Linked DNA regions of Homo sapiens: all the other regions are linked to region 2. Evidence: fine-mapped expression QTL. A gene starts in region 2. Each other region holds a variant in brackets. All regions are shown on one strand. Distances are between the middles of the regions.

The links. PIP is the estimated chance that this variant, and not a neighbour inherited with it, causes the effect.
Region 1: its variant is the best candidate, but not a certain one, in a credible set for the expression of ADORA2B in whole blood (GTEx, PIP 0.75).
Region 3: its variant is the best candidate, but not a certain one, in a credible set for the expression of ADORA2B in whole blood (TOPMed, PIP 0.67).

What each region holds. Positions count from the first base shown.
Region 1 is chr17:15,913,018-15,918,239 of GRCh38, reverse strand. It overlaps a transcript of ADORA2B not described here. Among named protein-coding and RNA genes, the nearest start is that of ADORA2B, 30 kb to the left of the region's middle. The variant C/T (reference allele first, on the strand shown) is at 2,371.
Region 2 is chr17:15,942,376-15,947,597 of GRCh38, reverse strand. It overlaps ADORA2B (adenosine A2b receptor), which reads right to left and starts at 2,468. Exons shown (of 2, transcript NM_000676.4): 1 at 2,015-2,468. The coding sequence starts at 2,349. RefSeq lists an enhancer at 1,651-2,465 and a silencer at 2,293-2,912.
Region 3 is chr17:15,898,358-15,903,579 of GRCh38, reverse strand. It overlaps a transcript of ADORA2B not described here. Among named protein-coding and RNA genes, the nearest start is that of ADORA2B, 44 kb to the left of the region's middle. The variant G/A (reference allele first, on the strand shown) is at 2,259.

The DNA.
Region 1 (5,222 bases), 29 kb after region 2:
GCTGGGGCCTTGGGGAGGTGACCAGGTCATGAGGATGGAAGGATTCCTGCCCCTGTAAGAGGCCAGGAGCAGCTCCCTCTGTCCAAGTGAGGACACAGCAAGAAGGTGGTCTTGGGCAACCGGGAAGAAGGCCTTTTCCAGAGCCCGACCACGCTGCCACCCCGAGCGCAGACTCCCAGGACCACGAGATAGCAATGTTGTTTCTAAGCTGCCCAGTCTAAGGTGCCTCGCGACGGCCACCTGGACGTACAATCACCCACAAGGATACGGAGGAGGACAGCCCGGGCCCAGTGCAGGCTCGAGAGGGAGGGAGGGACAGCGGCAGGAGGCGGGGCTGGGACCGAGCCCGAGCACTCGCCTGGACAGGCGAAGTTTGGGGTGGCCTCCTGTGGCAGGGGGTTGGGGAGCCTAAGCCAAGGAGCCGAGTAGGCGGTGACTGCGCGCCCCTGCCCGCGCCAGGCCCGGAGCGGTCGTCTGTTGAATGGAGCCCCTGATGCGACCAGCATGGGCCAGGCTAGGCAGGGGCAGGAGCCCTTCGGCAGAGCCCCCGTCACCGGCGCGGAGCCGCAGCCTGGGGAGGCCCCTGCCGCTGGAGTCCGGCCCCGGGAGCGCGAGATTGCTGGGCATCCCTGTTCCCTAGCCCGGAGCCCCGCCTAGGGGAGCCCTCCAGTGCCTGCGGGGGCAGGGCTGGGCAGGGGGAAGGGGTCCTCGGGCGTCAGACCCCAGCCCAGCCTGCACCGTCCACATGGTGCAGGGGCGCGGTCCCAGGATGGGCGGCCGCAGCCCTGAGGAGATTTGGCTGCGCCGGCTCAGCCTGGCGCCTTGTGGGCGCCCCTTGGGAGCCCTGAGGGAACGTGCCCCTCGAGACTCCGAGACTCCGTGGGTACCGCTGTCCCCGCCTAGCCCCCTCTTCAAGAGGACACCAGCGTACCGTGGCAGGCACGGTCTGGCTCTGTTGCCCAGGAGGGAATGCAGTGGCACAATCAGATCTCACTGCAGCCTCTATCTCTCGGGTTCAAGCGATTCTCCCGCCTCTGACTCCCAAGTAGCTGGGACCACAGGCGCCACCACGCCCAGCTCATTTTTAGTTTTTTGTGGAGATGCAGTCTCGTTTTTGTTGCCCAGGCTGGTCTTGAACTCCTGCTCAAGCCATCCTCCCATGTTGTCCTCCCAAAGAGCTGGGAAGCCACTGTGCCCGGCCTTGTTTTTCAATTAAGAGATCACAGCAAGTGCTCCTCCTTCTCCAGGACAGGTGGCCGATGGTGGAGCATTGAGCAGTGGCTAGGAGTGCAGGCTTTGGTGCCAGATCACTTAGGTTTAAATCCTTGCTTTGCCTTCTCCAAGCTGAGCTGCTTTAGGCAAATTATTGAGCCTTTCTGTGCCTCAGTTTCCTGGTCTATAAAATGGTCTGGCAATGACCTAATTCACTGGTGCCACAACCCCTTCTAAGGGAGGAGACCACCCCTCATACTGTCTTATGCCCAATTTCTGCCTCCAAAGAAAGAATTAAAAACTAAAAGGCAGAAATGAAATCCACAGGCAGACAGCCTGGCACCACTCCCTGGGCCTGGTAATTAAAGATTGACCCCTGATGTAATTGGTTATGTTATCTATAGATTACAGACACTGTATAGAAAAGCACTGTGAAAATCCCTGTCCTGTTCTGTTCTAATTACCGACGCAGGAGCTTGCAGACCCCAGTCATGTACCCCCCCTCCTTGCTCAGTTGATCACGACCCTCTCACGCGGACCCCCCTTAGAGTTGTGAGCCCCTAAAAGGGACAGGAGTTGTTCACTCAGGAGCTCAGTTGTTGGAGATGTGAGTCTTGTCGAAGCTCCTGGTCGAATAAAGCCCTTCCTTCTTTAACTCGGTGTCTGAGGGGTTTTGTCTGTGACTTGTCCTCCTACACTTCAACTCAGGGGCTGGCTCAGACCCACAGTCCTGCTGGGCTTCCAGCTGCAGTAGCACAAAGCTGCAGTCCCCAGGAAGGTTGACTTGTTTGGGAGAAGCCTGATTCCCATCCCAGGACACATAACAGCCTGCAGCTCATCCCGCTTACCACTGCCTTTGGAGGGAGACAGCTCTGGGCTGCAAGAGTCTTCGCCTGTTCGTAAGCAGGCAGCCATAGTGAGTGCCATGTGACCCCCCCACCCCAGCTGACAGCCAGGGCAGCCGACTGCTGACTGGTTAGTGACCCGTGAGGTGATCCCATGTGAAAATCAGTGCCTGCTCAGGCAGAATGGGGAGACCTATCGCAGGCCAATCTGATTCTTCAGCTTGTGTGACGGTTAACTTTATGTGTCAACTTCACTGGGCCAAGGGATGTCCACATAGCTGGTTGGACATTGTTTCTGGGGTGGCTGTGAGGG[C/T]GTTTCTGGAAGAGATTAGTATTTGGGTTGGTGAACTAAATCAAGCAGATACCCTCCCCAATATCAGTGGGCATCACCCAATCCACTGAGGGCTTAAATATAACCAAAAGGTAGAGGAATATTTAATTCTTTAGGCCTTTGAACATCACCACTGGCCTTCCTGGGTCTCCACTTGGACACGGCAGACTGTGGGACTTCTCAGCCTCCATAGTCACATGGGGCAGTTCTGTATAATTAATCTCATTCCCTTTCTGTCCACCTGTCTATCTATCACCTATCTATCTCCTATTGGGGCTGTTTCTCTGGAGAACCTTGACTAACACAGCTTGGTAACTATAACTAGAAAATACAGAAAGATTCCATGGATTGTTAATGGGTGGAGAAAGAAAGAAGAGATGACTATGGCAGGCAGAATAATGGTCCCCAGAGATGTCCACTCCTGAGTCCCTGGAACCTGTAAATGTGTTAGCTTACATGGCAGAAGGGACTCTGCAGATGTGATTAAGGTTAGAGACCTTGCAATAGAGAGAATAGCCTGGATTCTCCAGATAGGCCCAATCTACTTAACATGAGTCCTTAAAATCAGAGCGCCTTTCGCAGCAGCAGAGAACCAGGGGAGATGTGACTGGAAGAACAGCCACAGAGGCAACGCTGCTGGCTTTGAAGATGCAGGAAGGGGCCACAAGCTAAGGAATGCAGGAGGCCCCTGGAGGCTGGGAATGGCAAGAAGGCGGATTCTCTTCTAGAGCCTCCAGGAAGGAAGCTGCACTGTGACACCTTGATTTTAACACAGTGAGGCTATGCTGCACTTCTGAACCCCAGGACTGTGAGATACCAAGTTCCTGTTGTTTTAAGCCACTGAGTTTGTGATAATTTGTTACAACAGCCACAGAAAGCGAATACAATGACAGTGAGCAGTCATGACTCAGCCCGAGGTAGTCACGAAATGAGGGTTGCCCCAAAAGACCTGAACTTTGAGGAGAGTTGCCTAAGAAGTTAGGATCTAAAGTCAGTGCACAAGTTGGAAATTCTCCTGTGTCAGTTGCCATCAAGCTACCATCTGGAACATCTAAAAATCCTCTCAAATGGCCCCAACACAGCCAAGTTTTCCTCCAGGGATGCGCTGAGCATTAGATGAAACAGTTAGCTTGCAGTTAAGGTCCATACTGTATCCAAACAAACAAGCAAGCAAAGAAAGCTTTAAATACTGAAACTGCACTCAATGTCATGGGACACTTACACAATGGGTGACCCACAGGAGCTGAGGCTGTAGACAGACCAGCTATATGGTTCATGCTTGCTCTGGGGCACATGATTATTGGCTGCAATGGCAGGTGACAATAGACACATCCTGTTTTTTTTAACAGCTGGGCACAGTGGCTCACACTTGTAATCTCAGCACTTTGGGAGACTCGGATGGGAGGATCACTTGGGGCCAGAGGTTTGAGGCTAGCCTGGGCAACAAAGCAAGAGCCCTCTCTCTACAAAAAGTAAAAATATAAAAAGTCAGCTGGGTGTGATGGCATGCATCTGTAGTCCTAGCTACTTAGGAGGCTGAGGTGGAAGGATCCCTTGATCCCAGGAGTTCAAGGTTCTAGTGTGCTAGGATCATGCCACCACACTCCAGCATGGGCAAGAGAGTGAGATTGTCTCAAAGAATTTTTTTTTGAATTAACCTTATTTTTTCTTCCAACTATAGGTGGTCAAATGTGTGGGAGTAAAATGTGTGTTTGAAATGCCTTCCCAGGACTCAGTATGGCTCATTTTCCTCCTTGCCATGAGCTGCATGTCCCCATGATTCGGGGCAGCCCGCCTAGGTGCCTGTTCCTGGCTATCAGAAGAGCACAGTGAAGTCCTCCTGCCCCTGAGAAGATCGAAGACTCTGCTGTGGTCAAGGTTCCTTCTCCAGCCATATGTGTTGTCTAGGATTAGACTTTTCAAACAGTGGCCAGGCCTTCTGAGGTCACATGTAGCAGTAAAAGCAAGCTGTGGCTAACTTTTCCCATGTTCCATTTTCTGTTTTGCTATTTTTCTGATATGAGGGTAATGATCTGGTTTAAAGGGTGATATAAATAGTAACCCAGATGGACATATGGGAGGGGTGACGGGACCGGCCCTTTGGCCAACACTGCAAGATGTCCAGGCCAAATTTTTTTATAGCATATTTTTCATAATCTAGAAAAATGTTGGTAAGGTTTTAATAAGGCAGGTGAGTCAAGTTACAATGTATGAATTTAATGAGTTTGGAAGGTTCAGAGATTCTGCTTGGAAATGTATTGTGTCCATTCATGATACCATAAGTGATAGTAGCAGAGAAAGAAGGAAAAATGACAAAGGTCTTAGAATGGCCAGGTTTTGAGTTTCCCTCCAGGGGTCCTTCTTGTTTGCAATTCTGGGATTTTCACCATCAAGCTGGAAAAGCTGGAAACAACTGTTGACAAGACTGACTGCAGCTCTGAAACCAGGCTGGATGCGGAGGTGTTTATTCCTTGAGTTCAGTGAAGAATTCCAAGTCAGAATGACCATCAGTGGGAGCTGGATATTTCCACTAATTAATCAAAAATTATCTATTTAGCAACTGTTACACATTAGGCTGTAGCATTTTGAGTCAGTAAATACACAGCTCTGCTTCCAAGGAGCTCAGAGTGCAGGGTGTAAATGCACAGCCTAAGAATCCAAGCCCTTCTGGCTCAGGGAAGGAAGAGCCAGCTGTGGGCCAAGGGACACAGGGTGGGCAAGTGCCATGGGCTTCTGGGCAGCAGAGACCATTGCCACAGACAGTGCAACAACAGATGCCTCAGGGGGCACGTTGGGAGCCTCTCACCTGACACCTCATTTAATACGACCACTTT
Region 2 (5,222 bases):
GCACCTCTTCCAGACCTCCAAGCTCTGGACGGGCCAGGAAGGCAGGATGGGGCGAGCCTCAGTGTTCTTCCCTCCTGCCCTTGGCAATGCAAAGAAGCTCAGGGCCTGTGATTCACAGCACTTTCCCCTTAACACACCCACACCCATTTTTTTCAAGACCTCACCCAGCACAAACCAGGACAAGAAGGAACAGATTTAAACTTTCATGGAACTTCCTGCTCCCTGTGGCCTGGGAGATTGTTCCACTAACTCCTCTCTGGGTCTCTGGTCTCTGCCAGGGCAAGTCCAAGGGGTTTCCATTAGATGGACAACTCAGGCTGGGGCTTGTGACTGCTCTGCTGGATGCAAAACATCCAAAATGCCATCAAGTAACAACGATGACACCAAAAGGCAGGGAAGGGATCCAGAAGAGAGAGAAGAAACTGCTGTCCTCCCTAAGCCTTGGAAATCCCTGGGCTGTCACACCTGATGGGAGACATAAGGCCTCCTGGTCCAACAGCACGGGCAGCAGCACATGGAGTGGCCAGACACCCACATAAGGCTCACAGCCCTCCCAAGCAGGAGGCTCCTGTTCCTGCTGGGACCCACGAAACAACCTGCAAGGACCAGGCCCAACACATCTGCCTACTCAAATGGCCTCTGGGAGCATTCTCCGGCTCCATTCCCACAAACACATTCCCCTACAACCACCAGTTTACTGCAGGCAGGCTCCTCCTCCCAAAACAGCAGAGCACTTTTCTCCCTGACTCCTAAACACGGTGCCACACATGGCCTTGCAGAGTGGCCTGATGGCATGGGTGGGGACACGGTGCCAGCTGTGAGTTCAAGCCCCGGCTCTGACACCCATCCCTGATACACCATCCTGGGCAAGACTCCAACCTCCCTGGGCCATCACCCCTCCTCTACGAGATGAAGGTTACAGCACCCGTCCTCTGGTACTACTGCAAGGACTGCTGGGGACACGTTTATTATAAACTGTCTGCACAGAGTTGGCACCCAATAAATGAATTCCTTCCCTTCCTTCCTACTCTGTGATTTAGTTTCCCTGTCTCAGCTCCAAATTTAAAGAGATCTCAAGCTCTCCTCAGAAATGCCAAAGTGGCCCAGGCACCAAAGACAGAGAATAAATACTTTCAACAAACTCTCAATGTTGAAGTCATCAGCTCCAACTGGGAATCCACTCTGGTCGCTGGCTGACTCCATCCCCTGAATCCTAGATTTTCTCAGTGTGGGAGAAAGAGTGGACAAGTAAGTTCGCCACCATTTTCTGCACTTCTCAGCCCGCTCCCAACAGGGCAGCAGGAGATAAATAGTTACACAAGGGCAGTGAGGCTGTAAGGCCGTTTGCCAGACACGAGGAAGCATTGTAACTCCTTTTAAAAGTATATAATCTGAGTCCGTAGCGTTCCCCAAAGTTAACGGACACCTTCCCCTGGGATGGGCCGGGCCGCCTCTCCGCAGCAGACACGTTCTGAAGCTGGCTCATGCGTGTCCATTCTGACGGTGCGAATGCCCAGCGTCCAAAGTTGCCTTGCCCTTAGTGGGAACCTCCCGGGCCTCCGGGAGCCGCAGCACTCACGGGACTGCCGCTGCACCGCCGCTGCGGGCGAGTGTTAGGAACGGCCTTCGTGGCAGGAGTGGAGATGTGATCACCAAAACTCCCGCGCCCCGGGCTCCACCCGCCCACGGGGGTGACGCTTTCCCCGGGGGTGACGCTTTCCCCGGGGTTTCCACGGCGCCTCCCCGGGCGCCGGGGACCGCACTCCCCGGACCCCCTAGAGCTGTCCCTACGCAGATCTCCTTAGAGCGACGCGCATCTGGGATGTCTTGGGTGCCCGGGCGCACTGGTCTAGCGTTGCGGGGTGGCCAGGCTGGGAACCAGCCCTCCAAGCGCCCCGCGCGCCCCCAGCCTGGCCCGTCTGGGGCCCCCGAGGGAGGAACCCCGGCCTGGAGAAGACGACCCATTTCGGAGCTCCGACGGGGCCCCGAGTTCGGGCGACGCCGAGCGCCTCACCTGAGCGGGACACAGATGGCCAGGTATCTGTCGACTGCCACGGCCAGAAGGCTGAAGATGGAGCTCTGCGTGAGCACCAGCACGAAGCAGGCGAGGAAGAGGCAGCCGTAGAAGTCAGTGCAGAAGCCCAGGCTGATGGTGATGGCAAAGGGGATGGCGAAGAGCCCCACGGCCACGTCGGCCGCAGCCAGGGACACCAGGAAGTAGTTGGTGGGCGTCTGCAGAGTGTTCGCCGTGCCCACCGCGGCGCACACCAGCACGTTGCCCGCCACCGAAAGCGCGGCGATGACCAGCTCCAGCGCCACGTACAGCGCGTCCTGTGTCTCCAGCAGCATGGCCGGGCCAGCTGGGCCCCGGGCGCCCCCTACCGAAGGCGCGCCGGGCGAGGGGCAGCCGCGTGAGACCCGCCGGGCATGGCCATAGCGCCCGGACCGCGCCTCCGCCTGCCGCTTCTGAGCCTCGGGGCTGGGGCGCTGGTGGCCGGGACCCACGGGTCGGGGCCCCCCGCGGCCAAGAGGCGGCACCCATTGGCCCGCGCGCCCGCCCGTCTCGGGCTGGGCGGAGCACCACCCACTCGCCCGAGCCCAAAGTTCGCGCCCGCGCGGGGCCCCTCCGGTCCAGGCGCCGTGCCGCGTCTTGGTGGCGGCGGATAACTAACAAATTGCCCCAACTTCCCGTCACGCTCGAGCTCGGAGGCTGTGTCCCAGTGCTCGCACTGCCTTCCAGTCCGGGCGACTCCTGGGATGGGGCCGGGCTCTGCCCGGGGCGCCAGCAGGTCCCAGGAGCCGCCGCGAGAGGACCCCCCAGGGCCGCGCAACCCCGGGCGGGGCGAGCTCACTCCAGGCTAACCCTGCGCACCCCGGGCAGGCCGACTGGATGGGGGGCTGCCGGGCAGGCAGGGAGCCGAGGCCGCAGTCCCCGCTCGTGCAGCAGTCTCGGGCAGCGCAGCACCACCGGAGCTGTCTCCAGGCTGCGGGGCCGGACTGCAAGGAGCCCTCGGGGGCTGCAGCCCCCTCCGGCCGCCTCCCAGCGAGGCTCAGCGCTGTTCTCCACCCTCGCCCGCGCCACTGCCCCTACGGCCCCGCTCTGCCTTCTACCTTAAGACAAGCTCGTGGCCGTCCCATCCTCGTCCACCGCCCGAAAATACCAGTGTTCCCCGGGCCCTCTTTTTTCTTTCCTTCACACTCACCCTGGATCGGCACAGGCTCCCGAGGCCTCCCACGTGGCCCTCACACCCTTAACTCCCAAATCTCTTGCTTCAGCCCTAACAGCCTCCTGAGGGCCAGATCCTAACACCCCACTGCCGACTCTCGCCAGGAGAGAGACTGGTGCCCCCAAATCCAACAAGACCAAAACCAAGCTCATCTCTAATTCTCCCCAAACCTGTGCTGCCGCCTTTTCCTGGGACCCTGTTCGTTATTGACCTGGCAACCCTCACCCACCCTAGGAAGTTTGCTGACACCCTGAGCCTTCGCCTTTCTCCACGTCCCAATGATCAGCAGTGCTGCTGGTTCTGCTTCCAGAGACTTGCTTCCTTTTACCCCCAAAGTCCTGCCCCGAGTCCCTCCTCACCACCTGCTTCTACCATCCCTCCCTCTCTGCCTGTGGGTCCTCAGCTTCTGCAGCCCTCACCAACACCATTGTTCTAGAGCACTCCTGGCCACGCTATTTCACCACCCGAAAGCCTTTGCTGACAGTCACCAAAGAGGATGGGTAAGGAGATTTTCCAGCAACAGGAAAAGATGCTTGTAAAATCATGTAAAGCAAAAATCAAAACATGGGGTGACTGCTAAAGGGTAAAGGATTTTGTAAAGGATTTTTTAGGGTGATAAAAATTTTCTCAATGTGGTGATGGTTGTACGGTTCTGTGGATATACCTCAATGCCACTGAACTGTACACTTGAAAGGCATGCATTGTGTGGCACATAAATTATATCTCAATGTAGCTGTAATGACGACAACATGGCTCACGCCTATAATCCCAAAACTTTGGGAGGCCAAGACAGGAGGAACATTTGAGGCCAGGAGTTCAAGACCAGCCTGGCCAATGTAGGGAGACCCCATCTCTAAACAAACAAATAAAAAATAAATCAGCCAGGCACGGTGGCAGGTGCCTGTAGTCCCAGCTACTTGGGAGGCTGAGGCAGGAGGATCCTTTGAGGCCAGGGGTTCGAGGCTGCAGTGAGCTGGGATCATGCCACTGCATTCCATCCAGGCTGGGCAAAAGAGGGAGACCCTGTCTCTAAAAAAAGACAAGAAGAAGAAAAACCCCTCTGCCCTCCACAGGCATAAACAGTCACATCTGCCCTTGCACCAACGAGGACAGCAAAATGTCAAAAACACACACAGTAGACCTCCTAGCTGGGTGGGATGATTACAGGGAATTTTTTTTTCTATTTCCCTTGAGGTTTTGTTACTTCCATAATGAAAACAGTTGATTTATATATCAAAATATTGGCAAGCCCACACATTCCGTGTCCTGGTCACGTGAGTTCTGGAATCACCTGCTCCACCAATCACGTTCCCACAGCAGTTGACACAAACTTCTGCTGCCACACAGAAGGCCAGAGAGATCAGGCAGCTCCTCCAATAGCACTTCCTTGGAGTGGCAGAGGGCAAAGGGTTAGAGGAGGCTTCCTGGGGTACTGGCTTTTACAGAGTGAGGGAGGCTTCACAGTGGGGTGGTTCCAGCTATACCAGGCAGAGGTGGTAGTTAGGAGTTTGCCCAGGGGTGCCATGCCCAGGAGAGTGAAGAGAAAAAGGCCTAGTGGAGAAGGCTCTGGCTGCCAGGCTGGAGAGCTGGGCCATCCTGCTGGGATGCCAGTCCGCAGAGGTCACAGGACGGGGCGGGGATGGTCAGAGCAATATCCAAAGGAGTGAGTGGAGATTTTGCAGAGGGAGAGGAGGCGAACGGTGTCTGGCTGGTTGCTATGAGTGGTTCCTGCACGCCCTGCAGCTGCTGGGCCTGGGCTCTGCTCTAGCATTTCCTGTGCCCAGAATCACCATTTCCCCTTTTCAGAGCCCAACCTCCATCAGGAAACCTTCCCTGAATCACCCAATGTATTAGGCCATTCTTACATTGCTATAGGGAAATATCTGAGACTGGGTAATTTACAAAGAAAAGAGGTTTATTTGGCTCACAGTTCTGCAGCCTGTAAACCATAGTGCCAGCATCTGCTTGGCTTCCAAGGGGCCTCAGGGAGCTTTA
Region 3 (5,222 bases), 44 kb after region 2:
GAGGCTTGACAGTGGGTGCTGGAGGCAATTTTGAAGCATAGGTGCTTGGGGGGAGGGTCTCTGGGTAGCATTCAGCCTAGAAGGTGCTTTCTTCCCCCTACATAGTGCTAAAGTAGGCCTTTCTAAGTAAAATTTCCAATTTACATAAAAGGTGAATTTAGCAGAGTTCCCACTGTATCTAGACAAAAATACAGCCTAAAGTGGGTAACCACAGAAAATAATATATATTTTCCATTTCAATCTTATATTTTTCATTTTAACCTGAAATATACAACTATACATACTCATTTGCCCATCCAATGATTTGAACCTAGGCCTTTTATTTGAGCATGGTCCAAGGTTGAGGGCTTGATGCCATGTTTCTTGCAAAAGCCAGACCCAAAATAGACAGTCCAGAAAGCCCTAATTTACTTTTTAAAAATTTTCAAGTGGAGCAAAAATTTAAAGACAGTTATGAAGCAAACTGCAGAATCCATCTAGATGTTTATAATTACTTCCAATCTTTTAATAACTACTCATTGTGAAACACAAGATACATTTGAAAAATATATAAAATATAAATTCATAATTTAATGAGTTATTATAAAGCAAATATATATAATCACCTCCCAGATCACAAAGTAGCACACTATCTGCATCCCAGAAGCCCCCATGGGCCCCTTCCCATCACAACCTGCCATGACAGGTTGCCAGTGAGCCCTCCAGAATCTTCTGCACTGTTCATCTGACAAGGAGAATGCTTCTACTGTGCATCTGAAGCTGATTCTGAACTTCAAGGCTACTGAGGAAGTGTAGATCCAGAAGCCGAGTAGCCTTTGTAATGGTATGTCAGCTCTGATACAGGGAAATCATCCTCCCATGTGGTTTGGTGTGGACAGCCATGGGATGGATTAGCATGGAGTAAGTATCCAATTCGTGGGATGCTGAAGACAGAACAAATCAGATGGAAGAGAAAAAGGCTCCAGCCAGGATGAAAATGAACTTGGTTTGGAAAATATTGGCTGATGATAAATGGATGAGCAAAATGTGGTTTATCCGTACAATGGGATATTTGGGATATTATTCAGCCTTAAAAAGGAAGCGACCCAGCGCAGTGGCTCATGCCTGTAATCCCAGCACTTTGGGAGCCTGAGGCAGGTGGATTACCTGAGGTCAGGAGTTTGGGGCCAGCCTGGCCAACATGGAGAAATATTTGTAAAAATACAAAAATTAGCCAGGCATGATGGCGCAGGCCTGTAATCCCAGGAGGCTGAGGCAGGAGAATCGCTTGAACCTGGAAGGTGGAGGTTGCAGTGAGCCAAGATCGTGCCACTGCACTCCAGCCTGGAATGACAGAGCGAGACTGTCTCAAAAAAAAAAAAAGGAAGGGAATCCTGGTACATGCTAATGCTAAACCTGGATGAACTTTGAAAACATTATGCTGAGTGAAATAACCCACTCACAAAAAGACAAATCCCATATGAATCCACTCAAATGAGGTACTAGAGTAGTCAGATTCACAGAGACAGAAAGTGGAATGGTGGTTGCCAGGGGCTGAGGGGAGGGAGAATGGGGAGTTAATGTTTAATGGGCGCAGAGTGCCGGTTTGAGAAGATGAAGAGTGCTGGAGAGGAAGGTGTGACAGCTGCACCCACAACATGAATGGACTCAATACCACTGAACTGTAAACTAAAAATTAAGACAGTGACTCTTATGTGTATTTTACCACAATAAAAAACAAGATAAAACTTCTTGCTCTTGGGAGCTCGTGGTCTTGCGGAGGTGGTGGGGGGAGATTTGCCATATGATCAGATAAATTACAATATAATAGGGCATGTGCTCGATTATACCATGAATAAATTGTGTTTTAGGAGCCAGAGGGTGGACACAACTGTCACCATGGTTGAGGGCATGGGCTCTGGAGCTGCCTGCCTGGACTTGCCTCTTGCCTAGGAGCTGTGTGCCTCAGTTTCCCCCTGTACAGTGTATTCATTTTGCAGAACCTCCATGAGGGTTCAATAAATCCATGCATGGAAAATGCCTAGAATGGGTAAATAGTAAGTAGACATAGTAAATATGAAAAAAAGTGCTTTTCATGTAATCAGCTCAAATTAGCTTTTTTTTTTTTTCTCTTTTGAGATGGAGTTTCGCTCTTGTTGCCCAGGCTGGAGTGCAATGGTGTGATCTTGGCTCACCACAACCTCCACCTCCTGGGTTCAAGGATTCTCCTGCCTCAGCCTCCTGAGTAGCTGGGATTACAGGCATGCACCACCACACCC[G/A]GCTAATTTTGTATTTTTAGTAGAGACAGGGCTTCTCCATGTTGGTCAGGCTGGTCTCAAACTCCTGACCTAAGGTGATCTGCCCACCTCAGCCTCTCAAAGTGCTGGGATTACAGGTGTGAGCCACTGTGCCCAGCCTCAAATTAGCTATTTCAGTATAGCTCATCAAGTTCAGACTGCAGAGTAGGTGTGGTCACGCCTCAGGAATCGCTTTGTGGTGACCTCCCTAGAGGGAGCCTGCAGCACCCAGTCTGTGTGTGCAGCTGCTGTCCCGGTGGGCATGCTGGCACTCAGTGAGCAACAACCTTCATGGACTAAACGGCCCGGTACAGACATGGCAGTCCTGGGGACACACGTTCTGACTGTTTTTACAACAGCGATGTCACATATTCTCCCTCACCAAATTCTTTCTGTGGGGAATTGCTCACACTTGCAATTGGGCTGGCTAAGACGCTTTCCTTACATGGTGGCCGAGGAGGAACACTTTCTAAGATCTGGGAAACGCTGCAGAACTTCACTTTTAAAGATTGCATCCTCTCACACCAGTCAGAATGGCTACTGATAAAAAGTCAGGCTGGGCACGGTGGCTCACACCTGTAATCTCAGTACTTTAAGGGGCTGAGGTGGGAGGATTGCTTGATCCCAGGAGTTCAAGACCAGCCTAGGCAACATGTTGAGAATGCATCACTACAAAAAAAATTTTTTTAATTAGCTGGGCATGGTGGCACATGCATGTAGTCCTAGCTACTTGGGAGGCTGAGGTGGGAGGATCACTTTAGCCTGGGAGTTCAAAGCTGCATGACCTATCATCATATCACTGTGCTTCAGCCTGGGCGACAGGGCAAGACCCTATGTCAAAAAAATAAAAAATAAAAAATAAAAATAAAAAGTCAAAATATAACAGATGCTGGTGAGGTTGAGGAGAAAAGGGAATGCTTATACCCTGTTGGTGGGAATGTAAATTAGTACAGCCACTGTGGAAAGCGATTCGGAGATTTCTCAAAAAACTTAAAACAAAACTACCATTCAACCCAGTAATCCCATTACTGGGTATATATCCAACAGAAAATAAATCATTCTACCAAAAAGACAAATGCACATGTATGTTCACTGCATCACTACTCACAATAGCAAAGACATGGAATCAACTTAGGTGTCCATCAGTGGTGGACCGGATAAAGAAAATGTGTTTGGCTGGGTGCAGTGGCTCATGCCTGTAGTCCCAGCACTTTGGGAGGCCGAGGCAAGCGGATCACGAGGTCAAGAGATCGAGACCACCCTGGCCAACATGGTGAAAGCCTGTCTCAACTAAAAATATAAAAATTAGCTGGGCATGGTGGCACGTGCCTGTAATCCCAGCTACTCAGGAGGCTGAGGCAGAAGAATCACTTGAACCAGGGAGTCAGAGGTTGCAGTGAGCTAGAATCACGCCACTGCACCCCAGCCTGCCGACAGAGAGAGACTCTGTCTCAAAAAAAAAAAAGAAAAAAAGAAAATGTGGTACATATAAACACCATGGAATACTACACAGCCATAAAAAAGAATGAACTGATGTCCTTTGCAGCAACATGGATGCAGCTGGAGGCCATAATCCTAAGCTAACCCACATAGAAACAGAAAACCAAATATTGCATGTTTTCACTTACAAGAGGACGCTAAACACTGGGTAGTCATGGGCATAAAGATGGGACAATAGACACTGGGGACTACAAGAGAGGGAATGGAAGAAGAGAGGCAAGGGCTGAAAAACAACTGGGTGCTATACTCACTACCTGGGTAAGAAGATCAATCATACCCCAAACCTCAGCAGCATGCCATATACCCATGTAACAAACCTGCACATGTACTCCCGGAATCTCAAGTAAAAGTTGAAATTATAAAAATAAATTAATTAAAGTTCTCATGCTTGCTAATATGTTACACCCAGAAACTGCTATTTACTTGAATATATACATATAAGAAAATTTTCCCTGCATAATCTAACTACAGAACTTGATGGAAGATTTATGGATTACTACTGCTGTCAGTTCTGACTGGGTGTAGTTTAAAAGTGTCATGTATAATTCAATATATTATTTTTCTTTTTTTTTTTGAGACAGAGTCTCGCTCTGTCACCCAGGCTGGAGTGCAGTGGTGCTATCTTGGCACACTGCAACCTCCGCCTCCCAGGTTCAAGTGATTCTCCTGCCTCAGCCTCCCAAGTAGCTGGGATTACAGGTGTGCGCCACCATGCTCAGCTAATTTTTGTATTTTTAGTAGAGACACAGTTTCACCATGTTGGCCAGGCTGGTCTAGGACTCCTGGACTCAAGTGATCTGCCCACCTCAGCCTCCCAAAATGCTGGGATTATGGGCGTGAGCTACTGTGCCCGGCCTATATTATTTTTCAATCCACATCACGGTATTGAAAAACAAATGTTTAAGAATGTAGGAAATTTCTATTTCGTTGTTGGAATAAGCTGGTTAAAATGTTCACAAACACTCCTAAGTGACTTTAAGATTACTTATCATGTGTGTCAGCAGCTCCTCACAGACCATCCATCCAAATAAAATCCTTGACTCTGACAATTAAGAACATGATCTCATTCTCTTCCCAGCTAACTTCTGTAGTGCTTTAGACAAAACTTAAGACAAAGACAATAAATTTAAAAAGCAAGGCCGGGCGCAGTGGCTCACGCCTGTAATCCCAGAACTTTGGGAGGCTGAGGCGGGTGGATCACGAAGTCAGGAGTTCGAGACCAGCCTGGCCAACATGGTGAAACCCCATCTCCACTAAAAATACAAAAATTAGCCATGTGTGGTAGTGGGTGCCTGAAATCCCAGCTACTCGGGATTTTGAGACTCTGTCTCAAAAAAAAAAAAAAAAAAAGTGGGAGATTAAGAAAGTGTAAAACCCAGCTACTCGGGAGGCTGATGCAGGAGAATCGCTTGAAACCGGAAAGCAGAGGTTACAGTGAGCCGAGAT